Linked DNA regions of Homo sapiens: regions 1, 2, 4 and 5 are each linked to region 3. Evidence: fine-mapped expression QTL. A gene starts in region 3. Each other region holds a variant in brackets. All regions are shown on one strand. Distances are from middle to middle. Region 1 overlaps CHFR (checkpoint with forkhead and ring finger domains). Region 2 overlaps GOLGA3 (golgin A3). Region 3 holds the start of GOLGA3 (golgin A3). Region 4 holds the start of LOC124903065 (a long non-coding RNA gene). Region 5 overlaps POLE (DNA polymerase epsilon, catalytic subunit).

The links. PIP is the estimated chance that this variant, and not a neighbour inherited with it, causes the effect.
Region 1: its variant is the best candidate, but not a certain one, in a credible set for the expression of GOLGA3 in whole blood (INTERVAL, PIP 0.54).
Region 2: its variant is the best candidate, but not a certain one, in a credible set for the expression of GOLGA3 in atrial appendage (GTEx, PIP 0.77).
Region 4: its variant is the best candidate, but not a certain one, in a credible set for the expression of GOLGA3 in whole blood (INTERVAL, PIP 0.62).
Region 5: its variant is the best candidate, but not a certain one, in a credible set for the expression of GOLGA3 in whole blood (INTERVAL, PIP 0.84).

The regions. Positions count from the first base shown.
Region 1 is chr12:132,858,007-132,864,322 of GRCh38, forward strand. It overlaps CHFR (checkpoint with forkhead and ring finger domains), which reads right to left. Exons shown (of 18, transcript NM_001161346.2): 7 at 3,461-3,628; 8 at 1,062-1,221. Among named protein-coding and RNA genes, the nearest start is that of CHFR, 26 kb to the right of the region's middle. The variant A/C (reference allele first, on the strand shown) is at 3,389.
Region 2 is chr12:132,777,424-132,783,739 of GRCh38, forward strand. GOLGA3 (golgin A3) reads right to left here. Exons shown (of 24, transcript NM_001389683.1): 17 at 4,873-5,070; 18 at 3,375-3,491; 19 at 243-382. Among named protein-coding and RNA genes, the nearest start is that of ANKLE2, 19 kb to the left of the region's middle. The variant C/T (reference allele first, on the strand shown) is at 1,797.
Region 3 is chr12:132,826,205-132,832,520 of GRCh38, forward strand. It overlaps GOLGA3 (golgin A3), which reads right to left and starts at 2,665. Exons shown (of 24, transcript NM_001389683.1): 1 at 2,599-2,665. CHFR (checkpoint with forkhead and ring finger domains) reads right to left here. Exons shown (of 18, transcript NM_001161346.2): 18 at 6,152-6,316. It also overlaps the pseudogene RPS11P5. RefSeq lists silencers at 1,943-2,042, 2,543-2,602, 2,973-3,182 and an enhancer at 2,753-2,892.
Region 4 is chr12:132,904,787-132,911,102 of GRCh38, forward strand. It overlaps LOC124903065 (a long non-coding RNA gene), which reads left to right and starts at 3,882. Exons shown (of 2, transcript XR_007063553.1): 1 at 3,882-4,362; 2 at 6,208-6,316. RefSeq lists a silencer at 3,606-3,655. The variant A/G (reference allele first, on the strand shown) is at 2,694.
Region 5 is chr12:132,668,343-132,672,342 of GRCh38, forward strand. It overlaps POLE (DNA polymerase epsilon, catalytic subunit), which reads right to left. Exons shown (of 49, transcript NM_006231.4): 16 at 3,873-3,980; 17 at 469-597; 18 at 293-395; 19 at 14-160. Among named protein-coding and RNA genes, the nearest start is that of POLE, 17 kb to the right of the region's middle. The variant C/CA (reference allele first, on the strand shown) is at 1,874.

The DNA.
Region 1 (6,316 bases), 32 kb after region 3:
GTCTACAGCCTCCGGCTCTGGGTTCCAGGTTTCCTCCTTGTTGGTGCCACGAGTAGAATGAAAGTGGTAGCCATGCGGGGTGGCTCACGTCTGTAATCCCAACACTTTGGGAGGCCAAGGTGGGCAGATTACCTGAGTGCAGGAGTTCGAGACCAGCCTGGCTAATATGGTGAAACTCCCGTCTCTACTAAAAATACAAAAAAATTAGCCAGATGTGGTGACGCATGCCTGTAGTCCCAGCTACTTGGGAGGCTGAGGCAGGAGAATCACTTGAACCTGGGAGGTGGAGGTTGCAGTGAGCCAAGATCACACCACTACACTCCAGCCTGGGTGACAGAGCGAGACTCTAACTCCAAAAAACAAAAACAAAAACAAAAAACCACCCCGGGCTACATGGCGAAACCGTCTCTACAAAAAACACAAAAATCAGCAGGGTGGCTGGGAGTAGTGGCTCACGCCTATAATCCCAGCACTTTAGGAGGCAAACGTGGGCAGATCACCTGAAGTCAGGAGTTCAAGACTAGCCTGGCCAACATGGTGAAACCCTGTCTCTACTAAAAAATACAAAAAAATTAGCCGGGCATGGTGGCACACGCCTGCAGTCCCAGCTGCTCAGGAAGCTGAGGTAGGAGAATCGTCTGAACCCGGGAGGCTGAGGTTGTAGTGAGCCAAGACTGTGCCACTGCACTCCAGCCTGGTGACAGAGCGAGACTCCATCTAAAAAAAAAAAAAAAAAAAAAAAAAAAAAGGAATAAAAAATATTTAGAACATTAAAAAAAAAAAAAAAGTCAGCCAGGCATAGTGGTGTGCACCTGTAGTCCCAGCAACTCAGAAGGCTGAGGTCAGAGAACCGCTCAATCCTGGGAGGGAGAGGTTGCAGTGGGCTGAGAAAGCTCCACCCACTCCACCCACTCCACCCACTTATCTGGGTGACAGAGTAACCTCAGCAGATGCCAGGCCAAACAGGACCTGCAGGCTTGTCTCATGCCCAGCCCTGCCCCACACGGGACGAAGAACCTGCAGTGCCATGTTCCGTGAGCCAAGGGTGAACACGGTCGCACCTCACGCAGTCGTGCAGCAGGTCCTGGCAGATGATGCATGTCAGCGTCTCCTCCATCTTGTCTGGCTTCCCAGCCGCTGCTCTGACGTCCTCGTGGACGGTTTGGGCATTTCTACGCGGTTGTGCGACCAACAACTGCCCGTTCAGGTCAAGGTCCCCATCTACAGGAGAAAGGGATGTGTTCTGTCGTAACCAAGAAGGAAATACACGCAGGTTCAGGTCAAGGTCCCCGTCCACAGGAGAAAGGGATGTGTTCTAACTGTCGTAACCGAGAAGGAAATACATGCAGTCTTTTTTTTTTCGAGACAGAGTCTCGCTCTGTCGCCCAGGCTGGAGTGCAGTGGCGCGATCTCGGCTCACTGCAAGCTCCGCCTCCCGGGTTCATGCCATTCTCCTTCCTCAGCCTCCTGAGTAGCTGGGACTACAGGTGCCCACCACCACGCCCGGCTAATTTTGTGTATTTTTAGTAGAGACAGGGTTTCACCGTGTTAGCCAGGATGGTCTCAATCTCCTGACCTCGTGATCCACCCGCCTCGGCCTCCCAAAGTACTAGGGTAACAGGTGTGAGCTACCGCGCCCCACCCTCTTCTGGTGTTTTTATTTTTCTATAATGCTCAGATGTTGGTAATCAATTAATTTTTATTTTTAATTAAAGAAACTGTACACAATTTAAAAAGCCAAGTATTTAGAAGAAGCCAGGTGCAATGGCTCACAACTGTAATCCCAGCACTTTGGGAGGCTGAGGTGGGCAGATCGCTTGAGCCCAGGAGTTCAAGACCAGTCTGGGCAATATAATGAAACCCCATCTCTAAAAAAATGGGAAAAAAAATTAGCCAGCTATGGTAGCGTGCACCTGTGGTCTCAGCTACTCGGAAGGCTGAGGTGGGAGGACAGTCTGAGCCCAGGAGGTGGAGGCTGCAGTGAGCCAAGACTGCACCACGGCGCTCTGGCCTAGGTGACAAAGCAAGATCCTGTCTCTTAAAAAAATGTATACATAATATATTTAGAAGAAAACAAAGGCAGTCACCCTCCGTCTCAGCCGCTCCTCACCCAATTTCCCTCCTCGGAGGAAAACTATTTTCATGTCTTTGAGCTGTTTCTTCTGGTATTTACCTCTGTGTTTCTAAGTTATCATGGTACATTTGATTTATCAATTTTAGACATCATTCCTGACATCTATTAAGGTAGAGAAAAACTCTGTCCTGAGACACCCCTGCCAACATTACATTAACAGATTACATTAGTTCATGATACTGTATTTGTATTATTATGCTTATGCAAGTATTCACTGCTGAGCCAAGTAGTTTACTAGATTAAGTTGTGTGACTTACACAATTTTTCATGTTTGCTAGAATTAAAATTTCCTCATTCCTGTGCTTATTTTTCCTGTGTAACTGTTGCTGACTCTTTCCACACCTTCCCCACACCGATCAACCCCACGTGTCAGATAACCTAATTTCTTTCCCTGGGGACCCCTCCTAGAACCTTCCTGTCACAGTGCCCCAGTGGCTGGCTGCTCTCTGGACTGCTATACAGCAATGCTTCTACCATAACATTCCCAAATGTTTTCTAATAATCTTAACTTTGGCTTTCAAAGTGCAGACTTCTCCCTAAATCATCTTCAATGTGAAGATTTAAGCTACATTTTTAGAAATTATTGTCCTACCAGGACAGAGGGCTTTCTTTTTGATTTTCTTTTTTTTGAGATGGAGTTTTGTTCTTGTTGCCCCGGCTGCAGTGCAATGGCACAGTCTTGGCTCACTGCAACCTCCACCTGCCGGGTTCAAGCAATTCTCCTGCCTCAGCCTTCCAAGTAGCTGGGATTACAGGCATGCACCACCACACCCAGCTAATTTTTGCATTTTTAGTAGAGACGGAGTTTCACCATGTTGGCCAGGCTGGTCTTGAACTCCTGACCTCAGATGATCCGTCCACCTTGGCCTCCCAAAGTGCTGAGATTATAGGCGGGAGCCACGGTGTCAGGCTTGATTTTTATTTTTAGAGATAAAGTCTTGCTCTGTCGCCCAGGCTGGTCTCGAACGCCTGACCTCAAGTGATTCTCCTGCCTTGGCCTCCCAGTGTTAGGATTACGGATATGAACTACTGCACCTGGCCAGGAAGGAGGATTTTGAGATTAATTCTGCAATTCAGAATGCACTATTTCCAGACCAAGAGAACAGCCTGTAGCAAATCACAGTTCTATCTGGATTATGCAAACCGCAAAAAAACAGGCCCAGGTTTTCTGAATGAAAATGCCGGAGGTGTTACAGGCATCAACCTGAGGCAGGGTCCACATGCCCCTGCAGGAAGCAATGCCCCACAGCACGG[A/C]GCATGGCAGCGGCCCCCGCATGCCCCAGGAGCACACGAGAGGACTGAGGACACACACAACCAGACACTAACCTCCTCTCATTTTCTTCTTCACGGGCTCCAAATCCTCCTGATCCTGGGGTTCCAACGACGAAAAGGACGCAGTCTTTCTGTCTGGGAGAGCTGAGGCAAAGCTGGAGACTTCATCACTTGCCACAGAGGGACCACTTCCTTTAGGGGAGATGCCACCACCCCCAGACCCTGTGAGAGGAATCAAACAAGATAGGTGCTGATCCATCCAGCTCAGGAGAGAACCATGCCTGTAAGGTGTCACTGACTGGAGCCCAGTGCAGCTGGCAGCCTGAGATGTCGTAGTTTAGGAATGACAAGTGGCTTACGAGGAGTGTGTGCTCACTCAACTCACATCTTAACTCTATTTGTGCCTATCTCTACGTGGGGTGGAGCTGGGGGCAAGGAGCCCATTTGCAGAGAAACAAATGCGGAGATGTCTGTGACCAGGCTTAGCCCTCGAGCACCGAGTCTAACGCAGGGCAAACCCACATACCCGTGGTCATATGATACACACTGTGTCATAAACTTGTTACAACAGAGCTTTGGGCCGGGTGCGGTGGCTCACACCCGTAATCCCAGCACGTTGGGAGGCCGAAGCAAGTGGATCACCTGAGGTCAGGAGGTCGAGACCAGCCTGGCCAACATGGTGAAACCCCATCTCTACTAAAAATACAAAAAAATTAGACAGGCGTGGTGGCGAGTGCATGTAGTCCCAGCTACTCAAGAGGCTGAGGCAGAAAAATTGCTTGAACCCGGGAGGCGGAGGTTGCAGTGAGCCAAGATCGTGCCACTGCACTCCAGCCTGGGCAACAAGAGCGAAACTCCCTCTGGGGAAAAAAAAATAAAAATAAAAAATAGAGGTCTGAGGCTGGGCATGGGGCTCACACCTGTAATCACAATACTTTGGGAGGCCAAGGTGGGAGGATCACTTGATCCCAGGAGTTTTAGACCAGCCTGGGCAACACAGCAAGGCACCATCTCTACAAAAAATACAAAAAAGAAAAAAAAATTAACTAGGCGTGACAGTACGAGCATATGGTCCCAGCTACTCAGGAGGCTGAGGTGAGTGGATCACTTGAGCCCGGGAGTTCGAGGCTACAGTGAGCCATGACCACATCACTCTCCCAACCTGCACAACAGAGCAAGACCTCATTTTTTTTTTTGAGACGGACTCTTGCTCTGTTGCCCAGGCTGGAGTGCAGTGGCTCACTGCAAGCTCCGCCTCCTGGGTTGACGCCATTCTCCTGCCTCAGCCTCCCAAGTAGCTGGGACTACAGGCACCCGCCACCATACCCAGCTAATTTTTTTGTATTTTTAGTAGAGACAGGGTTTCACCGTGTTAGCCAGGATGGTCTCGATCTCCTGACCTCATGATCCACCTGCCTCAGCCTCCCAAAGTGCTGGGATTAAAGGCATGAGCCACTGTGCCTGGCCAAGACCTCATTTCTTTTGTTTTCTTTTTCTTTTTTGAGACAGAGTCTCACTCTGTCACCCAGGCTGGAGTGCAGTGGCGTGATCTTGGCTCACTGCAAGCTCTGCCTCCCTGGTTCACGCCATTCTCCTGCCTCAGCCTCCTGAGTAGCTGGGACTACAGGTGCCCGCCACCACGCCCGGCTAATTTTTTGTATTTTTAGTAGAGACAGGGTTTCACCGTGTTAGCCAGGATGGTCTCGATCTCCTGACCTCGTGATCCACCCACCTCGGCCTCCCAAAGTGCTGGGATTACAGGCGTGAGCCACCGCGCCCGGCCTGACCTCATTTCTTAAAAAAAAAAAAAAAATGCCAGGCGCGGTGGCTCATGCCTGTAATCCCAGAACTTCAGGAGGCCAAGGTGGGTGGATCATCTGAGGTCAGGAGTTCGAGACCAGCCTGACCAACACAGTGAAACCCCATTTCTACTAAAAATACAAAATTGGCCGGGTGTGGTGGCACATGCCTGTAACCCAGCTACTTGGGAGGCTGAGGCAGGAGAACTGCTTGAACCCAGGAGGCGGAGTTGCAGCGAACGAAGTTCGCGCCATTGCACTCCAGCCTGGGCAGTAAGATCAAAATTCCGTCTCAAAAAAACAAAGTAAAACAAAACAAACAAACAAAAAAAAACAGAAGTCTGTGTAAAGCACAGATGCTCCAGTGGAGGGATGCATAGCTTCCAACGGGTGGAGATGGTGCTGCGTGTGAACTATTTTACAAGAGGTGTGATAACGGGAAGGATACAGCACAGTGACTTGTAGGGAGAGCGCTATCTCCACGAGCAAGAAGCCAGAGTCATAACGACAGGAATGACCTTGGCAGAAAAACAGGCAGACTTTCTAATCACCTCTATCTTTTTTTTGAGACAGGGTCTCACTCTTCACCCAGGCTGGAATGCAGTGGCGAGATCTTCATTCACTGCAACCTCTGCCTCCTGGGCTAAAGCGATCCTTCCACCTCTGCCTCCTGAGTATCTGGGACTACAGGTGTGCACCACCATGCCCAGCTAAATTGTTTTTTGTATTTTTGGTAGAGACAGGGTCTTGCCATTTTACCCAGGCTGGTCTCAAACTCTTGAGCCCAAACAATCCACCCACCTCGGCCTCCCCAAGTGCTGGAATTACAGGTGTGAATAAGGATTACAGGTGTGAATAAGGATTACAGGTGTGAATAACCTATATCTTAATAAAGACTTAGTTTATCATATTACAGCATAATACATATCTAGCTTACAGTATTCAAATGTAAGTGTTATTATTTGAAAAAAAAAAACACAAGAAACTGGCTTACAGCAGCTGAAAGAAAACAGAATAGTTTTGGGGACAAACCACCTCATATACGAACAGAAGGAAAGAGACAGCCTGTGGGCCGGCCCCCAGCCGGCACCCACTCACGCCATCATCTCCA
Region 2 (6,316 bases), 49 kb before region 3:
CTCTGACCTGAAGCTAAGTACTCCTGCTGGGGCGCTTTCTCTCTTGGGGGGAGGACACGGGGCAGTGAGTGAGGCTCAGGATTCTGGAGACGGAGGCTGGGTGCCTTCTACTCCTATGATTCACTCAAGTACTCGGCAATTTGCAAAATATAGATGACCCTCGCTGTGCTGAAGGTGTGAATTAGACCCCGCCCATTGCCAGGACAGCCATGTTTGAGGGCTGGCGGGGCCCAGGCACTCACTGAAGGTCGTCGGCCTCGGCCTGCAGCTTCTGCACCAGGTGTTCCTTGGCCTGCAGCTCCTTCTTCACCTCACTCAGCTCCAAGGAGGCCGCCTTGAAGTGGCGGCGGTTATGCCCGGCTTCCACCTTGGCAGCAGCCACCTAGGAGGAAGGAAGCCACGTTGTCCATGCCCTGCGTGACACCCACAGCTTTATGACGTGCCGGGCGCAGGGGGTGAATGCACTCCCGGCCCCGTGCATGTCCTGGCTGCCGGCGTGTGCTTCTCCACAGGCCTGTCAAGTTCCTTGTAAAGATGAAACCACCTGACCCGGAGCTCGGCACGCAGCAAGTGCACACTTATGTGGCTGCTGCTATCTGTTGAATGAACACATTTATTCGAGATTTCTCGGTCTAAATAGTTTTTATAGTCTTCTTCCAGTGTATTCACAGCCTGGACAACATAGCAAGACCCTGTCTCCACAAAAAATAAAAAAATTAGCAGGGCATGGTGGTCCCAGGTACTCAGGAGGCTGAGGTGGAAGGATCACTTGAGCTCAGGAGTTCCAGGCTGCAGGGGAGCTGTGATCGCGCCACTGCACTCCAGCTGGGGTGACAGAGTGAGACCCGGTCCCAAAAATGAAATAAATAGGCCAGGCGTGGCGGCTCACGCCTGTAATCCCAGCACTGTGGGAGGCCGAGGCGGGTGGATCACGAGGTCAGATCGAGACTATCCTGGCTAACACGGGGAAACCCCGTCTCTACTAAAAATACAAAAAATTAGCCAGGCGTGGTGGCGGGCACCTGTAGTCCCAGCTACTCAGGAGGCTGAGGCAGGAGAATGGCGTGAACCCGGGAGGTGGAGCTTGCAGTGAGCCGAGATCGCGCCACTGCACTCCGGCCTGGGCGACAGAGCGAGACTCCATCTCAAAATCTCAAAAAAATAAACAAATAAATAAATAAAAATAATAAAATAAAATAAATACATTTAAAAAATAAAAATAAAATTAATTGGAAGGCCAAGGCGGGCAGGTCATCAGGTCAGGAGATTGAGACCATCCTGGCTAATATGGTGAAACCCCATCTCTACTAAAATACAAAAAATTAGCCAGGCATGGTGGTGCACGCCTGTAGTTCCAGCTACTGGGGAGGCTGAGGCAGGAGAATCACTTGAACCCGGGAGGCAGAGGTTACAGTGAACCAAGATTAAGCCACTGCACTCCAGCCTGGTGACAAAGTGAGACTCCGTCTGAAAAAAAAAAAACCGAAAAAAATTCAGTGAACCCTAAGCACGGAGCGAAAGCTGGAGAGCTGGGGCACCGTGTGAGCCAGCCTGAACCACGGCCCAGCAGCAGGCCCCAGGCCAGGGTTAAACGGCCGGGCGGATGAGGCCTGTGGGGCCAAGAGAAAGCTGTTAACTGCTCCTGTTAAAATATTCCAGCCACATTTTTTTTTTGAGACGGAGTTTCCCACTTGTTGCCCAGGCTGGAGTGCAATGGTGTGATCTTGGCTCACCACAACCTCCGCCTCCTGGTTCAAGCGATTCTCCTGCCTCAGCCTCCCGAGTAGCTGGGACTA[C/T]AGGCATGTGCCACCACGCCAGGCTAATTTTGTATTCATAGTAGAGACAGGGTTTCTCCATGTTGGTCAGCCTGGTCTTGAACTCCCGACCTCAGGTGATCTGCCTGCCTCAGCCTCCCAAAGTGCTGGGATTACAGGCATGAGCCACCGCGCCCAGCCACCTGCCACATCTTAAAATTAATTCTATTTATAAAGAAACTTTGTTGTTTCACCCCTTAAAAAAAATCAAGAACCTTTTTCTTTTCATCTCAATTACATTATCATAGAAAAGTTCTTAAAGGTTGTGGCAAAGCCAGGTCATAGGAACGAAAGCAGCTTCACTGTTAGGCCGAAAAGTTTGAATTGTGAAGCAATTACTTTTTTACAAGTTCAATTCAAACGGGATTTAAAGGAAAAGTGATGTGTTCTTTCCTGCCTTTCTCTAGAGACAACCAGTTATTTCTTGTGTTCCTCCTAGAAATTTTCTACATATACATCAGCATCAAATGCATGCACACACACCACAGCCCAGGCACACACGTGCGCACACACACCACAGCCCTTGCATGGACACCCCCCCCGTGCACATACACACACCCCAGGCACACACGTGTGTGCACACACACCACAGCCCTTGCACGGACACCCCCCCGCGCACATACACACACCTCAGGCACACACGTGTGTACAGACATCACAACTCTTGCACGCACAGCCCCCCGCATGCACACAACCCAGGCACACACGCGTATACAGACATCACAACCCTTCCACGCACAGCCCGCGTGCACACACACCCCAGGCACACACGTGCGCACACACACCACAGCCCTTGCACGGACACCCCCCCGCGCACATACACACACACACCCCAGGCACACGTGTGTGCAGACATCACACTTGCACGCACAGCCCCCCGCGTGCACACACCCCAGGCACACGTGTGTACAGACATCACAACACTTGCATGCACAGCCCCCCGCGTGCACACACACCACACCCCAGGCACACGTGCACGCACACCCCCCATGTGCACACACACGGCAAGCGTACTAGGAGTAGCTGCTCTGTGCCAGGTATGGCGGAGGTAGCCAGCAAGCAGCAGCGTTCTAACAGAGGAGCAGGGCCCAGACAGGGCACCTGGGGGTCAGGATGGGCCTCTGCTGGCGACGTGACCAACGTGTCAGTGAACACCTGAAGCAGGGCAGGGGCCAGCCACGAAAAGACAGCTCTCTACACAGAGAAGGGTCCACAGAACCACCCCTCTTATCTGCCGAACACAAATGGGATCATATGCTATTCTCAAGTTTGCTTTTGCAATGCAACACGACATACAGGACACCACTCCCAGCACAATATAAATACACATGCACGCGGAGCTCATTGGCCCCAGGCCCTCACAGCTGCACTGCCATTTAATCTAACGCCACCTTCTACGGACCAGAGCAGGTGCTCTGCGGCCTCCGTCACCAACAACTGCAACACACCTTTGCTCTGTGTAACTGCTGGAAGGAGGCTGGTGTGTGAAGGACCCTGCATAGATTTCTAGGCACTGGAGCGTCCTCTGGAACGCCCTGTGAGACGGAAGGTGGCACGCACCTGCTCCTTGAGGCTGTTCACCTTCTCCTTCTCCTTCTCTAGTGAGGCCTGCAGGGCCTGGACAAGATGCTTCATCTGGCGATCCTCCTCTTCTTTGCGCTGCAAAACTGCCTGCACCTAGATCAGATTGCAGGAGGACAGATAAGGAAGGACGTCGAATTACAAACACACAAGGCTGCTACAGCAGGCAACGTGACACACGCCACATCACAGGCACACGCCAGGGAGGTAGAGGGAACTTCACTGCTGAAGAATCTGTGACAAAAACAGAATCCTAGGTTGCGGGAGCATGATCACAGGGCCGCACTCAAGAACGTGGCACGCCTGTGGGCCCCACGGCTCCAGAGGCCAGGGCAGGAGGATCGCTGGAGCCCAGGAGGTTGAGGATGCAGTGAGCTATGATGGTACCACCGCAGTGCCCTCCACCGCACTGCCCTCCACTCCGGGCAAGAGCCAGACCCTGTCTCAAAAAAAAAAGAATGGGCCGGGCGCGGTGGCTCACACCTGTAATCCCAGCACTTTGGGAGGCCGAGGCAGGCGGATGACAGTCAGAAAATCGAGACCATCCTGGCTAACACAGTGAAACCTTGTCTCTACTAAAAATATGAAAAATTAGCTGGGCGCGGTGGTGCACGCCTGTAGTCCCAGCTATACCAGAGGCTGAGGCAGGAGAATCGCTTGAACCCGGGAGGCAGGGAGCCGCGATCGTGCCACTGCACTCCAGCCTGAGAGACAGAGTGAGACTCCGTATTACTAACAACAACAACAACAAAAAAATGGAACATGGTGGCTGGGAACTCAAAAACTACATACAAATCAGGGGCTGCAGCCGGGTACAAAAAGAACAGAAGTGGTGGGAACTAGGGCAAAATATGGAACTAAGATGGGATAGTCAACACCAGCAGCTCGATTTGGCCCCCAGGATTTCCCTGAAATGCCCAGCCTAGTCCTCAATTCAGAGAGGCTGTGGAGACTAAGTAGCTGAGTGAGAACCAGGTCAGGGTTCAAGTCCCAGTTCTGAATTGTGTGAACCTCTTGTTAAGTGCCCCCTACAAACAATGTCACCGTCTGGGACTGGAACTCAGCCACACCCACATGGAAGGTCTACCCCTCAACTAAGCAGGTCTGCCCCCCAACTAAGCAGGTCTGCCCCCCGACTAAGCAGGTCTGCCCCTCAACTAAACAGGTGAACTGAGCACACGCAGGGGCTCCAGCCTCACCTCAGAGAGCCCAGCCCTGCACCAACAGCTGGGGACTCAGGGCTGTGGGTCACCCAGACCCCTGAGCCTGTTCCTCCCCTCGGAGAGCCCAGCCCTGCACCAACAGCTGGGGACCCAGGGCCGTGGGTCACCCGGACTCCTGAGCCTGTTCTCTCGGCTGCAGGCCGGGTGGGCTAGGAGTCAGCACAGGTGACTGAATCTGGATGAGATTCTCGGAGTGCGCACAGCCCCACCAACTCTCACACCGTTGCTGGCGTGAGTTTGACGAGTTTGAATACCTGAAGGTTCAACTGGACTAGGTCTGCCTCCCTCTTGGCCAAAGCTGTTTCTAGGATGCTGTTGTGTTCCCGCAGAGCTGCGTTGGACTGACCGAGGCCCGTAAGCTTCCCTTTCTCGTGCTCTAATTCAAGAGCCAACTTCTTGTTTGACTCCTCAAGGCGTTTTATCTTCTTCCTAAAGCCTCTGGATTCTTGAAGCTGAAACATACCAATGTCACTGTAAAATTACCTGCACTGGTGAGTGGAGTTCACATACCCCAGAAACAGGTGAGTTTTCAACAAGAAACAGCGAAAACTTAGGCCAGGCGCAGAGGCTCACGCCTGTAATCACAGCACATTGGGAGGCCGAGGCAGGGGGATCACCTGAGGTCAGGAGTTTGAGACCAGCCTGGCCAACATGGTGAAACCCCGTCCCTACTGAAAATACAAAAATTAGCCACTATCGTGGCACATGCCTTTAGTCCCAGCTACTCAGGAGGCTGAGGCAGAAGGATCGCTTGAACCCAGGAGGTGGAGGTTGCAGTGAGCTGAGATTGTGCCCCTGCACTCCAGCCTGGGCAACACAGCGAGACTCTGTCTCAAAAAAAAAAAAAAAAAGAAAAAGAAAAGAAAAGAAACATCGAAAACTAAAACACAGCAATGGGCTGGACGCAGTGACTCACACCTGTAATCCCAGCACTTTGGGAGGTCAGGGGTTTGAGACCAGCCTAGCCAACATGATGAAACCCTGTCTCTACCAAAACTACAGAAATTATCCAGGTGTGGTGGCGATCACCTGTAGTTCCAGCTACTCAGGAGAATGAGGCGGGAAAATCACTTGAACCTGGGAAGTGGAGGCTGTGGTGAGCCAAGATTGTGCACTCCAGCCTGAATGACAGAGTGAGACTCTGTCTCAAGACAACAAAAACAAAGAACAATGGACACCACACAACCCTGCGATGGACACCACAGGACCGTGCTTGCTTCATGATCTGAAGGCTGTCGTGGTCATGGTCAGTTGCTTCCCCAGGCCCCTCTCATTCCTCCCCATGGCCAAGAGCCCAGCCTTCTCCTGGGGCCATGGGCTTCTGGAGAAGTCTGTCCAGGCACTGAGCCCTGGCTAGGCCACTCAGCAGGGTGGGCATGAGCAAAACCACTTCAGGGCAGGACACAGCCAGAGAGTGGAACAGGCGGCCCTACTGTGACGGAGCTCCACAGGGAGGGGCTGGGGAGTGGGGGGCGCCGGGACACTGAGCTGCCACCAGCAGCGCTGAAGCGAGAACTGTCTCTGAACCTGAGATATCTGACGTTTTTCTTTTTTTGAGACGGAGTCTCACTCTGTCGCCCAGCCTGGAGTGCAGTGGCGCGATCTTGGCTCACTGCAACCTCCGCTCCTGGGTTCAAGCGGTTTACCTGCCTCAGCCACCCAAGTAACTGGGACTACAGGCACCCGCCACCACACCCG
Region 3 (6,316 bases):
TCCCCACAATGAAATAAAGTTATTTTCTCATTCTCCAAAAAAAAAAAAAAAAAAGAAACTGGAAGAGCAGCATCACGGCCACGGCCCAGACAGGCACCACCACCTGAACAGAAGGAAGGATGGGATGACCAGCAGGACTGGACTCAGCCATTACAGGTGGAACATGCAGAGGAGAACTGCTGCAGAGGAGAACTGCTGCAGAGGCCCACAGTGACGACGCCTGGGCCTTACACTGACCAAGAAGGAACACAGCCAAAGACGCTCAGGTTCCACCGAGAGGGCACGCCAACATGGTGACAGCCAACCGCACCGAGCTGAGTCCAGTGCAATCACAGATTCTGCTCACTTAATTCCCCTGCTGGTGTCCAAGCAGCCCACCTCTCCAGAACAGAGACCCCATGACGGTGACTGTAAGTCACAAAGACGGCCCCTCTTTACAGGCAGCTCCTCCTGAAGCCGGACCAGAGAGAGAATTCACTAACTGCCTGGAGTTTGGTGACAGTGATACTTCTCCCTGTAGGGCAATAAGCTGGCAGTCTCGGTCGATTCCCAGTCTTGCTTGATTTTTAGTTAAAATTTGGAATGACTCAGTCGTCAGGGCCTCATTACCTCAGACTACTGACAAAAAGCGATCTCCGGGCAGCGAGGAGGAGGAGCAACTGCCAGTGCATCACAGAAAGCTGGTACTACAAACATGGCTCTATTTTAAATAAAGAGGCCAGTCTAATCAGTCTCACTTATGATCACTCGCACTCCTGCGTCTCTAGAGAGAAGAGACAGGACAAAGCTGTCACTTAGAACTGCGAAAGGTACACACAACCCTAGGTTCACAGCTGGGTAACATCAAGGGACTTCATACTGAGAAACCACCACCTCAGGCACCTACAGGACTTTCTGCTTCCCCCACACCTGAATTCTGTATACAAACATTCACGGCTCCATCTACACCACCTCGTTTCACCTGTTCCTATCGGGTATTAGAAACAACAGAGCACAGCCAAAAACCAAACACGATTTCCTCAGGAAAAGAGTACCTGGTGGAGGCCACACTAGTATCCAAAAGTAAACACAGATCTATACACAAAGTGAAAACCAAAAGCAAGCAAGCCTCATGTCACTGCAGAGACGTGAAGGGCAGGCTTGGAAGTCAGGACTCCGGCCTCAGCTCCCGACCCTCCACCACTTACCTGTGAGAGCCTGGGCTAAAGATTTCTTAATCACATTTAGCCTGTTTCCTCACCAGTAAAACAATGAGAAAATGAACGCAAAATTTTGCCAGGATTAAATATAACAAGGCACAGAGTCTGTCCCGTGTCCTCAATAAAATGACAGTAATTATCACGATTTTCCCTTTAGTTGTTGCTTGTCAAAATCGCTAAAAGCCAACTGAAGGCATTCTCACTTGGGAAAGTATGCTACTTCTTAAGGCAATCGGGGGAAAAAAAGCTCCTCTTCAATCTGAGTGATGTCAGATGATTTATTTCCTTCTTGCCATTTAAGGTATACTGCCTGAAAAGATATTAAAGGGTTATAAAGCGCTATGTTGATGTCGTTTAAAAGACAGTTCAAAATAATCCACGACGACGGGTGTGGCTGCTCACACCTGTAACACCAGCACTTTGGGAGGCTGGGGTGGGAGGATCGCTTGAGGCCAGGAGTTCCACACCAGCCTGGGCAATACAGCAACACACCCAGTCTCTTAAAAAAAAAAAAAAAATCCATGAGTCATCTGTAAATGGCTTACACTGGCCCAGTGACAATAAACTCCAACCTCTTAAGAATCCAGCACCTGCCTACACCAACATCCTTACCGCCATCGCTTTCCCCCTTTGCCATTACACTGTGGCCACATCCTCCGCCCTCAGGGTCTTCAAACTTTCTGCCTGAGGCGCGCTTTTCTCACAATTTTGCCTGGCTTGCTTCTCGTCATAGAGGCCTTAGCACGGAAGTCGCCCGCCCCCCAGGCTCCCACTTAGAGTAGCGGACCCCACCCAACCACCGCCCGGTACCCTCTCGCTGGCGACCCTGGGTGTCCCTGTCCTAGGTGGGCTCCGCGGGGGCAGTGACCCAGACCCACAATACCCAGGACCCGCCACACGACTGACATTCGTCGGGTTCATACCCGTGACAACGCCCGGCCCCACTCGCTCTGGCCACCTGGAATGAAGACAAGTCGGCCAGCGACAAAGACAAACAAGGAAGTACACGGACTCCTGAAACCCCGACTTCCCACGAACCACCCGACACCATGTCACGCCTTTCAGCTGCAAAGGGCCAGGCTAAAGCAAGCACTGCCCGAGTGGTGGCAGTGGACAGCTTCGGGACAGGCCGCGCTCGTCGGGCGCAGACAAGCATTCAGGAGGGCTCGCGGGCACCGGCATTTACAGAGCCAGCTCCGCCGCAGCTGAAGGCGGGCGCCCAGGCCCGAGGCCACCGCAGCGAGGCGGGGGTGACTGGAACGGGGCCGTCCCGCCACGCTGCAGGGACGCGCCCAGGCCCCGCCGCCGCCCCTCGAGCCTCCCCCGCCCATGCACTGCGGGAGCGGGAGCGGGAGCGGGAGCCCGAGCCCCGAGGCGCCGCGGCCTCCGAGCCCCTCACCCTGCTGCTCTGGCAGCCCCGGAGGCCGCCCGGCCCGGATGCTCCGGCGGAGACGTGGCCGTGAGAGGGGCGGGGCGAGCGGTGCATCGGCCTCGGGTCCCCGGAAACAGCCTGCACGCGCTACTTTCGTTCCGGAACAGAGAACGTCCTCCTCTTCTTCAAGTGGCCACCCTAGGGCCGGGGACCCTCTGCCCACAGGGTCCGGATCGAGCTCACCTCCGACTGTGATGAGGCCGCCTTCAGAAAGTGACCTTAAGAGTTTGCGGACCTTTCCCTAGTAGAAACGCAACTTCCGGAACTGCAGGACCAACTCTTTCAGGAAGCTGAACCGAGCTTCCGGCGGAAGTGGCGTGGCCGGGGCTCGGCATGGGCGCGGCCGAGCTCGGTGTGGGCGTGACTTCCCCGCCCGCCCTAGTCGGGTCCCCGCCCCAACCCCGCACCTCCACCCGGCCGGCGCCCTTCGCGCTTCAGGTGCCAGATCAAAGGCGACGCTGCTTTGGACCCTATTTGCTTCCCCTTTAAAAAGGGCAAAGCTGGACGGCGCGGGCCGCTGGCCGCTGGGGAACGGCTTTCCACCTTCCCTCATCCGCCAGGCCGCTCTTCCAGCTGTCAGGAAGGAAATGGCCTGGAGGGCGCCTCGGGGTCCTCTGTGATGTTGCGCTCATCTCTGCGGATTTTGGAATACGCTTCAGTCTACGAAGTTTTCTGGGATTTTGATGGGAACTGCTGCAGATCGTTTGGGGAGCACGGGCATCGCTGACTCGGTCCTTCATCTGCGTCCCTGGTGGCCCCTCCATTTATTTCGGTCTTTTGATTTCTTCCACCAGCATTTTGTAATTTCAGCATACAGATTCTGCACCTTTTAAGTTTATAGTATTTCACATCAAACAACTGTAACACTGCGTTTTTGACGTTTTCCACGTGTTCACTGTTGGTCTACACAAATGTGATGAATTCTATGTTGATTTTCTTATCCTGAGACCTCGCTGAACTCATTAGTTTGAGGGTTCATTTGGTGTTTTGCGGTTGTTGTTGTAAAATCCTTGTATTTTTTACATGGGCCATCATGTTATCTGCAAATGCAAATTCTAACACAAAATGATCAGACTGAGGCGTAAAATATACAACTTTTAGAAGAAAACAGAATTTCTCACATCTAGAGCTTGGGGAAGAGTTCTTAGATCTGACCAAAAAAACACAATTCACAAAAGAAGTTGATAGAGTAAACTTCATGAAAAAATTAGAAACTTTTCACCGGATGCGGTGGCTCACGCCTGTAATCCCAACACTTTGGGAGGCCAAGGTGGGCGGATTACCTGAGGTCAGGAGTTTGAGACCAGCCAGGCCAAATGGTGAAACCCATCTCTACTAAAAATATAATAATTAGCCGGGCATGGTGGCATGTGCCTGTAATCCCAGCTACTCAGGAGGCTGGAGGAGAATCGCTTGAATCCAGGAGGCGGAGAGGTTGCAGTGAGCGGAGATCGTGCCACCAGCCTGGGCAACAGAGCAAGACTCCGTCTCAAAAAAAAAAAAAAAAGCCGGGCACAGTGTCTCACGCCTGTAATTCCAGCACCTTGAGAGGCCGAGGCAGGTGGATCACAAGGTCAAGAGATCAAGACTATCCTGGCCAACATGGTGAACCCTGTCTCTATGAAAAATACAAAAAAATTAGCTGGGCGTGGTGGTGTGTGCCTGTAGTCCCAACTACTCGGGAGGCTGAGGCAGGGGGATCACTTGAACCTGGGAGGCAGAGGTTGCAGTGAGCTGAGATCGTGCCACTGCACTCCAGCCTGGGCGACAGAGCGAGACTCCATCTCAAAACAAACAAACCAACCTTGTGAGAAAGACCACATTAAGAGGATGAAAAGATGAGTTACAGACTGTGAGAAAATATTTTCAAACCACGTTTGTTGAAGGACTAGTAGCTAGAATATATAAAGAACTCTCAAAACTTGACAGTAAAAAAAAATACAATTATTCTGGGCACAATGGCTCATGCCTGTAATCTCAGCACTTTGGGAGGCTAAGGGGGCAAATCACTTGAGGCCAGGAGTTTGAGACCAGCCTGGCCAACATGGAGAAACCCTGTCTCTACTAAAAATACAAAAATTAGCCAGGCGTGGTGACGCACACCTGTAATGCCAGCTATTTGGGTGGCTGAGGCACAAGAATTGCTTGAATCTGGGAGGCGGAGGTTGCAGTGAGCTGAGATTGTGTCACTGCACTCCAACCTGGGTGACAAAATGAGACTCCATCTCAAAAAAAAAAAAACCATACACACACACAAACAGAAGACAAGCAAAAAACATGAAAACACATTTCACTAAAAGGATATATGAGTGGCAAATAAGCTTGTGACCAGGTTCAGCATCACTAGCCATTACAGAAATGCACATTAAGACTATCTTGAGGTCAGGCGCGGTGGCTCAAGCCTGTAATTCCAGCACTTTGAGAGGCCGAAGCAGGTGGATCACCTGAGGTCAGGAGTTCGAGACCAGCCTGACTAACATGGTGAAATCCTGCTTCTACTAAAAATACAAAAATTAGCTGGGCATGGTGGCAGGTACCTGTAATACCAACTACTTGGGAGGCTGAGGCAGGAGAATCGCTTGAACCTGGGAGGTGGAGGCTGCAGTGAGCTGGGATCACACCATTGCACTCCAGCCTGGGTGACACAGTCAGACTCTGTCTCAAAAAAAAAAAAAAAAAAAGACTGCCTTGGGATATTAGTATACACCTATTAGAACAGCTGAAATAATATACAGCAGTGGCAATATGAAATGCTGGGAATAATGTATTCTGGAGTAACTAATCTCTTATACATTGCTGATGGGAACAGCAATAGTGCACCCACTCTGGAATATAGTTGGGCAGTTTCTTCAAAAAGTAAACAATTTTATGACCCAGCAACTGCATTCCTAGACATTGAACTCAGAGAAATAAACTTATGTCTACACAAAAGCCTGTACATTACTGACCCCAAACTGGAAACAACCAAAATGTCCTCTGACATGGTGAAACAAACCATGGACCCCCCACGCCACTCTGACATGGTGAAACAAACCGTGGACCACCCACGCCACTCTGACGTGGCAAAACAAACTGTGGACCACCCACGCCACTCTGACGTGGTGAAACAAACCATGGACCACCCATGCCACTCTGACGTGGTGAAACAAACCGTGGACCACCCATGCCATGGACACTACTCAGCAATAAAAAGGAGCTGACCACTGATGTGTGCAATAACTTGGACGAAGCTCCAAGGCATTACATCCAGGGAGGAAAACATCTCCGAAGGTCTACACTGCATGAACTGTACGATGTGTCCACTTATGTCACAAAATGACAGCATTATAGAGTGGTGGTGGGGTTCGGATGACTAAAAAGGGGTAGATGGAGAGAGATTTTTGTGGTGATGGAACTGTTCTGTATTTTGTGACCGTGGTTACGTGAATGTCCTCATGTGATAAAATGACAGAATGAAGAAAACACTCCACCAAGCTCAGTTTCCTGATTTTCATATTGCACTATCCTAAGGTGTAGCCAATGGGAGAAATAGGGAAAACATTTAATTAGCATAAGATCTAGTATTCCATAGCACAGGAGGGTGAATATAGTTAATAATAATGTATTGTATATTTTTAAATAACAAAAAGAGTGGAACTGGAATGTTCCTAACAAAGAAATGATACAGGCTTGAGGTGATGGATAC
Region 4 (6,316 bases), 79 kb after region 3:
CTTTTCCTCACCGAAGACGCGGCCTCAAGTCATCCCCAAGCCGGGGCTCCTGGGTGGCTTCTCAGGAAGCCAAGCTCCCTCACCCTGTGGCGACGCCGCGGGCGGAATGCGCATGCGCGCCACGAGCCACAATCGTAGGGTTGGGCGCGCCCTGCCGGCCACCAGGGGCAGCGCAGGAGCTGAGCGCACCCCATCAGCGAAAGAAGCGCGCCTCCCCGCTCTTTTCTGAACCGTATCTCCTAAACTATAATTTTGGAGATCAAAAGTGCGGTGGAGCCTCCTCTTCTGTGGCTTGATAGGAGTGGGGGAGGTAACAAGAAGCAAAAGTACAAAGCCAATATATTAAAGTCAACTGAAACTGGAAAACTTTAAAGGCCTACCGTTTGCAATAAAACAACAAAAAGAAATCCTTGGATACAACAAATCCAAGAAATCCTTGCTCTAACAAAATATGAAACCATCTGTATCCAGAAAACTATGAAACACTATTAAAAGAAAACGTAGGCCGGCGCAGTGGCTCACACCTGTAATCCCAGCACTCCGGAAGGTCCGGAGCACAGAGGGCTCGCCTGAGGTCAGGAGTCCAGAGGAGCCTGGGAAATATGGCCAAGCCCTGTCGTTACTAAAAATACAAAAATTAGACTGGCTTGGTGGTGTGCGGCTGTAGTCCCGGCTACTCGGGAGGCTGAGATGGAAGGATGGCTTGAGCCCTGGAGAGGGAGGTTGCAGTGAGCCATGATGGGGCCACTGCACTCCAGCCGGGGGAACAGAGGGAGACTCTATCTTAAGGGAGGGAGGGAGGGAAGGAAGGAAGGAAAGGAGGGACGGAAAAGAAAGAGAGAGAAAGAGAGAAAAAAAAGGAAAACATAACCGGAGCATACTCCTTTTTCATTATTGTAGTCACAATATTGCTAAGATGTCAATTCTTCCCAACTGTAGAGTTGGTGCCGCTCCGACAAAAATCCCCGCAATTAATTTCGTAGATGTTGACAAACTGTTTGTAAACCTAGAATTGTAAATACAACCCTGAATAATAATGAACTTGAAGAACTCAACTTCCAAATCCAAAACTTCTAAAAGCTACCAAAAGAGCACTATCTTTGCAAAAGAATGGGCATTCTTTCACATGAACAATATCATTTTATCTTATTTTTAATTTTTTTTCAGGGTGTTGCTGTCACCCAGGCTGGAGTGCACTGGCACCATTATAGCTCACTGAAGCCTCGAATTCCTAGGATCAAGGGATCCTCCCACCTCAGCCTCCTGAGTAGCTGTTACTATAGGTGCCACCACGCCTGGCTGGAACAATATCATTTAAACTAAGCTTACATAGAATGTATTAATAATACAATCACAGGCAAGGACCCTTGCTTCAAACGTGTTAGGAAGCTGCAGAATTGAGGCCAGCCAAAACAGAGAGATTAAATCACATACATTTCTAGCTTTAATTTTCTTCCTATTTTCGCAGATCATGATTTTCATAATGATAATACATGAAGTGGTCCTTATAATAAGTAGATTCTATAGAGATGTGTATTGTATCAGCAGATGTCCGGTGTAGAATGCCACTTCCATCACAGCTTCTGAACACACAATGCTATCTACAATCGATTAAAAAATATATTTCAAAAGCCAGTTTCCCCAATATAACTAACTTCAGCATTCACTGATGTACTGAAAACTTATATTTGCCAATAATAGATTTTAGGGTAATTCATATTAAGATAGGATGGTTTTTAATATTATTTGAGGATAGACAGGAAATTTTAGTTGAGCAGGTTCTATTTTGTTTGAGTGGATCCATTAAAAAGATTGTTATTATTGCCGAGTGTGGTGGCTCGTGCCTCTAATCCCAGCACTCTGCGAGGCTGAGGCGGGAGGATGGCTTGAGCCCAGGCGTTTGAGACCAGCCTGGGCAACCTAGGCAGACCTCATCTCCAATAAAAATACAAAAATCAGCCTGACGCAGTGGCACGTGCCTGTAGTCTCAGCTACTTGGGAGGCTAAGGCGGGAGGACCACTTGAGCCCAGGAGTTCGAGGCTGAAGTGAGCTATGATGGCACCACTGCACTCCAGATGAGGCGACAGAGACTCTCCCTCTAATAAATAAATCAATACATCAATGAAAAATTTTAAAAAGATTATTTGTTGACTGTCAGGGTGATTTATTCTTCTAATAAATAGAATATTTACTTACAATTATATATCTTCTCATTAATACTCCAGTTCTGGTTACAAACTGGTAAAAATTGAGATAAAATCATAAAACTAACCAGGAAAACATTGACCTGCTAAAAACATAGAATCAGTGAAACTACTCAGGAAATACTTGCTATGACAGATTACTCTCTCTGTTAAAGGGTCCCATGTAGAGACATTTCTATGAATATTGAACAGTTAACAAAAAACTGAGACTGGGGGAGTGACAGACAATTCAGATTACAAAGCAAAAGCAACATAGGATTCAGATAAATACGATACCATGGTGAAACAAAATCTTTAAAGCACAAATGGTTTTGAATGTAGAAGCTCATATTTCACTAACTATTCACTGATGCGTAGTCCACTTTTCAGCAGTGATCTCCAATCAGTCCCTCCTTTCACAGAAGCCAGCGCAGGAGGCGCACGCGTCGCTTCCCGCCCCGCACTTCACCGCCCCAGCCCGTCCTGGCTGCCACCCGCCGTCCCTGAGA[A/G]ACGCTCAGACGCTTCTCTCTCTCTTTTTAAAATTATACTTTAAGTTCTGGGGTACATGTGCAGAACCTGCAGGTTTGTTACATAGGTATACACGTGCCATGGTGGTTTGCTGCACCCATCAACCAGTTATCTACATTACGTATTTCTCCTGATGCTATCCCTCCCCTGGCCCCCCACCCCCGACAGGCCCCGGTGTGTGATGTTCTCCTCCCATTGTCCATGGTTTTTATTTTATTATTATTTTTTGAGACGGAGTCTCGCTCTATCGCCCATGCTGGAGTGCAGTGGCACCATCTCGGGTTCAAGCGATTCTCCTGCCTCAGCCTCCTGAGTAGCTGGGATTACAGGCATGCGCCGCCACGCCCGGCTATTTTTTTTTTTTTTTTTTTTTTTTTTTTTTTTTGTATTTTTAGTAGAGACGAGGTTTCACCATGTTGGCCAGTCTGGTCTCGAACTCCTGACCTCGTGATTCGCCCGCCTCGGCCTCCCAAAGTGTTGGGATTACAGGCGGGAGCCGCCGCGCCCGGCCTCAGACGTTTTTCTCTAGGTAAAGCCGCGGGATGAACCAGCCCCTGTGGAAATTTAGAAGTAACGACGTCCGTCAATTTCTGTATGAAAAATATACAGATCGTGTGACACGTCTTCTGGGAATGAAAGTCTGCTAAACTCGCCGTCACGAGTAGATGAACACATTTAAAGTTTGTAGTTAAGAGGAAAACAACGCCAACGACACAAATGCCCCAAGCGCTGGATGAAGCAGCGACCTAGGATGGGGCTGGCCTGGAACGGGAACCAAGACGCCCGCCCGGACGAAAACGAGCAGGGAAACCCGGGCCGGGGTCGGCCGCCCCACACGACGCACTGCGCAGAGACCACGCGGCTCCGGGTCTCGCCTGCGCCGGCGCATCCCTCGCAGACGCGCTCCTCCCACGCGAGGGCCCCTTCCCCGAAGCGCACGCCTAAGACTGCGCGCCGCAGCCCGCCCTGTCTAGCTGAGGCGCAGACCCGGATGGGTCCCAGAGGGGCGGGTCGGGGCGGAGAGCCGCGCCCAAAGGCAATGGGAGCCGCACGCTGCTAGGCAACATGCTGTCTCCCGGCAACGTAGAGGCGGGGAATTCGCCAACGTGTCTGAAACAGACAACAATTTTAGCCAACGGCTGCGTGGGCCTTGGGCGTCCTGGCCAATGGGAATAGTGAGGGGCCTGTCACTAAGAAACCTGTCCCTGAGCAACGCATAGGAGGGGTGGAACCCAGCAGCGCTGACTGAGCCGCCGCGAAGTGCCGGAACGTATTACCTGGGAGCCAAATTTCAGAGCGTCGTTTGTCTTCCCAAGCCCACCAGCTTTCAGCGTTCTCCAGCCTCGCCACACCCCCGCCTCGGGCCGTCCCCGCCCAGACGCTTGTCCCCGCGAGAAGCTGAGCGCACTGAAGTGAGCCCGGCGGCTGCCGCCGGAGGAGGAGCCCGGCTCTGGACACGGCCGTCAGGAAGCTCAGAGGCTGCAGCACCGCTTCTGCGTTGATTTCCGCTTGACTTTTACTCTTTTCTTGGGTTAAAAATCAAACGCCGACCCGAGGCGTCAGAGATGGGCGGTCGTTAGGCGCAGTGGCGGCCCCCGGATGTTTGCGATGGGACGGCGGGCTCGGAACGTGTGGACGTGGGCTTTGGAGGTGCGAGCCCCATTGGGCCAGGGCTGGGTCCGGGCAGTGGTACGGGGTCTCAGCTGTCCGTCACAGGAGATGTGCAGGCCTCGTCATCTGGGGTCTTACGTGTCAGTGATGTGGGGTCTGCCGGGTCAGTGAGGGGGTCTGTGAGGTCACTAGTGGGAGGCCACTCCCAAAGTGATTCCCCTCTGTCCCACCTGCTTCCCTGAGAAAAGCTCACTTATCCTTCACCAGGATTTAAAAATATATATCCTAAGACCAACCTGTAATATTTTTTTCTTTTTTGGAGACAGGGTCTCTTTCTGTCACCCAGGCTGGAGTGCAGTGCCACAATCTCATTGCAACCTCTGCCTCCTGGGCTCAGGCAATCCTCCCACTTCAGCCTCCCGAGTAGCTGGGACTACAAGTGTGTGTCACCACACTCAGCTAATTTTTAAATTTTTTATAGAGACGAGGTCTCACTCTATTGCCCAGACTGGTCTCAAGCGAGCCTCCTGCCTTAGCCTCCCAAAGTGCTGGGATTACAGGCATGAGCCACCGCGCCCACCCAATATTCTCTTTTTCATGGACCTTGTTTAGTTGCACTAAAAAAAAATTAATATATTTTATTTTTGTTTAGAGCGTGTTGGGTTTACAGAAAAATCAACTGGAAAGAACAAGGAGTTCCCCCCATCCCTTTCTACCTTAGTGTTCCCCTTATGTTCTACCATAGTGTTTCCCCTATATTTACGTTTCATATTACTCTGGTACATTTGTTACAACTGATACACCAATATTAATATATTATTATTAACTGAAGTTTATAGTTTACTTTTTTTTTTTTTTTGAGTCGGAGTCCCGCTCTGTTGCCCAGGCTGGAGTGCAATGGCACGATCTCGGCTCACTGAAACCTCTGCCTCCCGGGTTGAAGCAATTCTCTTGCCTCAGCCTCCCAAGTAGCTGGGATGATAGGTGCCCGCCATCACGCCCGGCTAATTTTTGTATTTTTAGTAGAGACGGGGTTTCACCATATTGGCCAGGCTGGTCTCTTGGCCCGGCTGGTCTTGAACTCCTGACCTTGTGATCCACCCGTCTCAGCCTCCCAAAGTGCTGGGATTACAGGCGTGAGCCACCACGCCTGGCCCTTTTTTTTTTTTTTCCTGACGGAGTCTTGCTCTTGTTGCCCAGGCTGGAGTGCAATGGCGCGATCTCGGCCCCATGCAACCTCCACCTCCCGCGTTCAAGTGATTCTTCTGCCTCAGCCTCCCAAGTAGCTGGGATTACAGGCATGTGCCACCACGCCTGGCCACAAGTTTTAAATTTTAATGAAGTTCAACTTATCAGTTTTTTGTTTCACAGATTGTACTTTTGGTATGGTATCTGAGAAAATATCACTAAACCCAGGATCACCTAGATTTTCTTCTGTGCTGTCTTCCAGGAGTTGTATAGTTTTGCATTTCACATTCAGGTCTTTGATCCATTTTGAGTTAGTTTCTGTGAAAGGTATAAGGTCTTTGTCTAGATTCACATTTTTGCCTGTGGATGTCCAGTTTTTCCAGCACCATTTGCTAAAAAGACTATCCTTTCTCCATTGCATTGCCCTTGCTCCTTTGTCAAACATCAGTTGACTATATTTGTGTGGCGCTGCTTCTGGGCTCTTTATTCTGCCCCACTGACCTCTTTGTCCATTCTTCTGCCAGTATCAGAGTGTCTCCATTACTATCGCTTTATAGGAAATTTTGAAGTTGGGTAGTGTCAGCTCCCCAACATTGCTCTTCTCCTTCAATACTGTGTTGACTATTCTGGGTCTATTTCTAATCTAGCAATGGAAGTTTTGCATTTCATTAGTCTTTATTTATTTATTTATTTCAGACAGCGTCTCACCCTGTCGCCCAGGCTGGAGTGCAACGGCACAATCTCGGCTCACTGCAACCTCCACCTCCAGGGTTCAAGCAATTCCCCTGCCTCAGCTTCCCAAGTA
Region 5 (4,000 bases), 160 kb before region 3:
CCCAGGCACTCACCCGCCAGCCTTCTCTTCTCGTATTTCGCCTGTTCCTCGCGGGACAGTTCATGAAAGGCCCGAGCTGGCCCCTCTGGGAACAAGGGGGGGAACTTCTCTGACTCCAGCTGGTGCTGGATCCGATGGTATTCGCTGCGACTGGCTGGCACTGGGAAGGAGGCAATGGGGGCAAGTTCAAAAGGAGGCACAGACACACCGGCTTCCCACCAAGTGGAGAAAGGCGGCCGACACTCACCCACCCGTTTCCCACCGAGTGCCCACCCAGGCGGCCGACACTCACTGAACTCGCCCCTCCACTGCCAGGCCATCTTCCGCTGGCAGTTTGCTCCAGGCTTATTGAAGTCACAGGCAGCACAGGTGGCTTCGTCCACCATGGCAGAGGGCTGGGAGGGGTGAGAAAGCACTTAGGGCTGGGCAGAGAGAGCTCCGACTCTGACACGGGAAGTAAAGTCTCACCTGCAGGCGGTTGGTCAGGATGATGTTGGGGTACATGGCCCCCACGTCCAGGTGGTAGATGAGTGGACACTCGATGCGGCTGGGAACGTCCTTCAGGGAGGCAAGCTTGCTCTTAATCTCATCACACACCTGCAGAGAAAGCGAAACTCAGTAGAGGCTGGTGACCAAGCTTGCCTCGTGTGCAGTTCACCAACCCCTTTTAGACATTCAGGAGAGGAAAAAGCTGAAAAATATATAAATAGAGCAAAAACTAGCCAGAAGAAAAAAGTTAAGAAGGGTTGCCATCATTTCTATGAAATACATTAAATTTGGTGGAGTCATTAGAAAATTACTTGAACACTAAACTCTCCTTAGTATTAAAAAAAATCCTTAGGCCAGGTGCAGTGGTTCATGCTTGTAATCCTAGCACTTTCGGAGACCGAGGCCAGAGGATCACTTGAGCCCAGGAGTTCGAGACCAGCCTGAGCAACACAGTGGGACCCCCGTCTCTATAAAAAATAAAAAATTAGCCGTGTGTGGCGGTGGCACCTGTAGTCCCAGCTACTCGGAACGCTGGGGTGGAAGAATCGCTTGAGCCCGTGAGGTCAAGGCTGTAGTGAGCCCAGATTGCACCACTGCACTCCAGCCTGGGCAACAGAGCCAGATCCTGTTTCAGAAAAAAAAAAAGAAAAAGAAAAATCCTTAAAACCCTCCAAAGTAGTAAAAATAGAAAACACACCTAAAATTTTAAGAAAAAAGTGATTACAAGGAATAACATCTATTCCATAGAACAGGAAATACCACAACAGTAACACCTATTGTTTCTACTTGAATTACAGATAAACGAATCAGCCGGGGAAGAGCCTCCACTGCACCCTTCTCTGCCCAGTAACGGCGTGTTCTGAAAGGCTGTCCAGTCAAGAAGGGGAGGATGGGCTGGGACAAGTGAATGGCCAAGTTTCCATGGTGGGGACACCACCTGGACATGCCCCACGTGGCTGTGAGCCCCTGCTGACATCCCCCCAGCCACCCTCCGCCCAACAGGTGACCCTTCAGGGACACAAAGGCGATCCTGGGCTTCCCTTTCAAGGGCACTTGCGAGGACTTAGGAATCGCTAACAGGACAATGTCATCTACAGAGCTCCCTTCCTCACTCACCAGGGAGCCTGGCGTCCTCACATCTACAGAGCTCTCTTCCTCACTCACCAGGGAGCCTGGCATCCTCACATCTACCACACCTCCAGCCTCACTCTACCTGCCCATCTCACTGTTTCTTAAAGACTTTAAATATCTGCTTCTAGGTCGGGCGCGGTGGCTCACGCCTGTAATCCCAGCACTTTGGGAGGCCAAGCGGGCAGATCAGCTGAGGTCGGGAGTTCGAGACCAGCCTGGCCAACATGGAGAAACCCTGTCTCTACTAAAAATA[C/CA]AAAAAAAAAATTACCCAGGCGTGGTGGCAAGCGCCTGTTATCCCAGCTACTCAGGAGGCTGAGGCAGGAGAATCTCTTGAACCCAGGAGGCAGAGGTTGTGGTGAGCCGAGATCATGCCATTGCACTCCAGCCTGGGCAACAAGAGTGAAACTCTGTCTCAGATTCTGAGACGTCTCGCCACCACGCCTGGGTAATTTTTTTTTGTATTTTTAGTAGAGACGGGGTTTCTCCATGTTGGCCAGGCTGGTCTCAAACTCCTGACCTCAGGTGATCCACCCGCCTCAGCCTCCCAAAATGCTGGGATTCCAGGCTGCCCAGGCTGGAGTGTAGTGGAGCGATCTCGGCTCACTGCAAGCTCCGCCTCCCGGGTTCTTGCTATTCTCCTGCCTCAGCCTCCCGAGTAGCTGGGACTACAGGTGCCCGCCACCACGCCCGGCTAATTTTTTTATATTTTTTTAGTAGAGACGGGGTTTCACCGTGTTAGCCAGGATGGTCTCAATCTCCTGACCTCGTGATCCACCTCGGCCTCCCAAAGTGCTGGAATTACAGGCGTGAGCCACCGTGCCCGGCCATGGCCGACATTCTTTAACTCCTATTTGTTATTCAGACAAGGCTCTCTTCCTGATCGGTTCATAAGAGTTCCCTGAAGTATAATAATGGATGTGGCTGACAATAGCCAAACAGTGCTTCACAGCTTGCCAAGAGTGTACACATATTCTTGTTTAAATTTTGACTAGTGAATCTATTACAAGATGTTTCTTGAGGGCAGGCACAGTGGCTCACACCTGTAATCCCAGCACTTTGGGAGGCTGAGGTGGGCAGATCACTTACAGTCAGGAGTTCGAAAGCAGCCTGGCCAACGTGGTGAAACCTCATCTCTACTAAAAATACAAAAATTGGCCAGGCATGGTGGTGGGCACCTGTAATCCCAGCTACTCAGGAGGCTGAGACAGGAGAATCGCTTGAACCCAGGAGGCAAAGGTTGCAGTAAGCCGAGATCATGCCATTGCACTCCAGTGTGGGTGACAGAGCAAGACTCCGTCTCAAAAAAAAAAAAAAAAAAAAAAAAAGTTTCTTGGCATCAATGTGAAAACTGTTAAAAACTCTAAACCAGCAACCTCACTGAACATGATGTAGTGCTGCACAGTGCCTGACATAAAGACCTGAGATAGGCCAGGCGCGGTGCCTCACACCTGTAATCCCAGCACTTTGGGAGGCCAAGGCAGGCGGATCACAAGGTCAGGAGTTCAAGATCAGACTGGACAACATGGTGAAACCCTGTCTCTACTAAAAATACAAAAACTAGCCAGGTGTGGTGGCGGATGCCTGTAATCCCAGCTACTGGGGAGCCTGAGGCAGGAGAATTGCTTGAACCCGGGAGGCAGAGGTTGCAGTGAGCCAAACTCATGCCATTGCACTCCAGCCCAGGCCAACAACAGCGAGACTCCATCTCAAAAAGGGAAAAAAAAAAAAAAAAAAAAAAAAGACCTGAGATGTGCCATGTCCTGAGGAACAGGGATCAGAGAAGAACTGGTGTCTCCCTCTCCAGTCACATAACACACTTTGTAAGTGTGCTTTCTAACCATTATGTAAACAGATTTTACAGTCACTAATCCTGTCATTTGTAGGAATTTACTGTCATTTTTAAGTCTCAACAACAAAAAGTAAATAAAATTTAAAACCTCCAATGGCTCCCCAGTGCCTATAAAATAAAGTCCTAATGCTTTAAAACAGGACACGGGATACATCCCACCAGGACCCACCTTCCATGTTACTGCATTTCAGGAGCAGCTCACACCCCACCTCTCATGAAGCCCTCCGACCTTGTGACAGCATCACACGTCACAACCATGACTGCCCTGTCCCACCAGAGACCCTGTGTCATCCGTCCACAGCACCACACGCAGCAGGTGCACAATAAACGTGCTGCTGAAAGACGTGGTCTGTGAAGAAGGCGCCAAACACAGACTGGCTCTTCCTGCCTCCCTGATGGTTACCTCTTCAAAGTTGGTGACTTGCTCCACAGGCACTTTCTCCTCTTCCTCAAGGGCGTGGCGCAAGGTCTTCTCAACCCGCTGCAGCAGGAAGTCAAAGGCGGCAGGATTCTAGCACAACAGTGAGACGA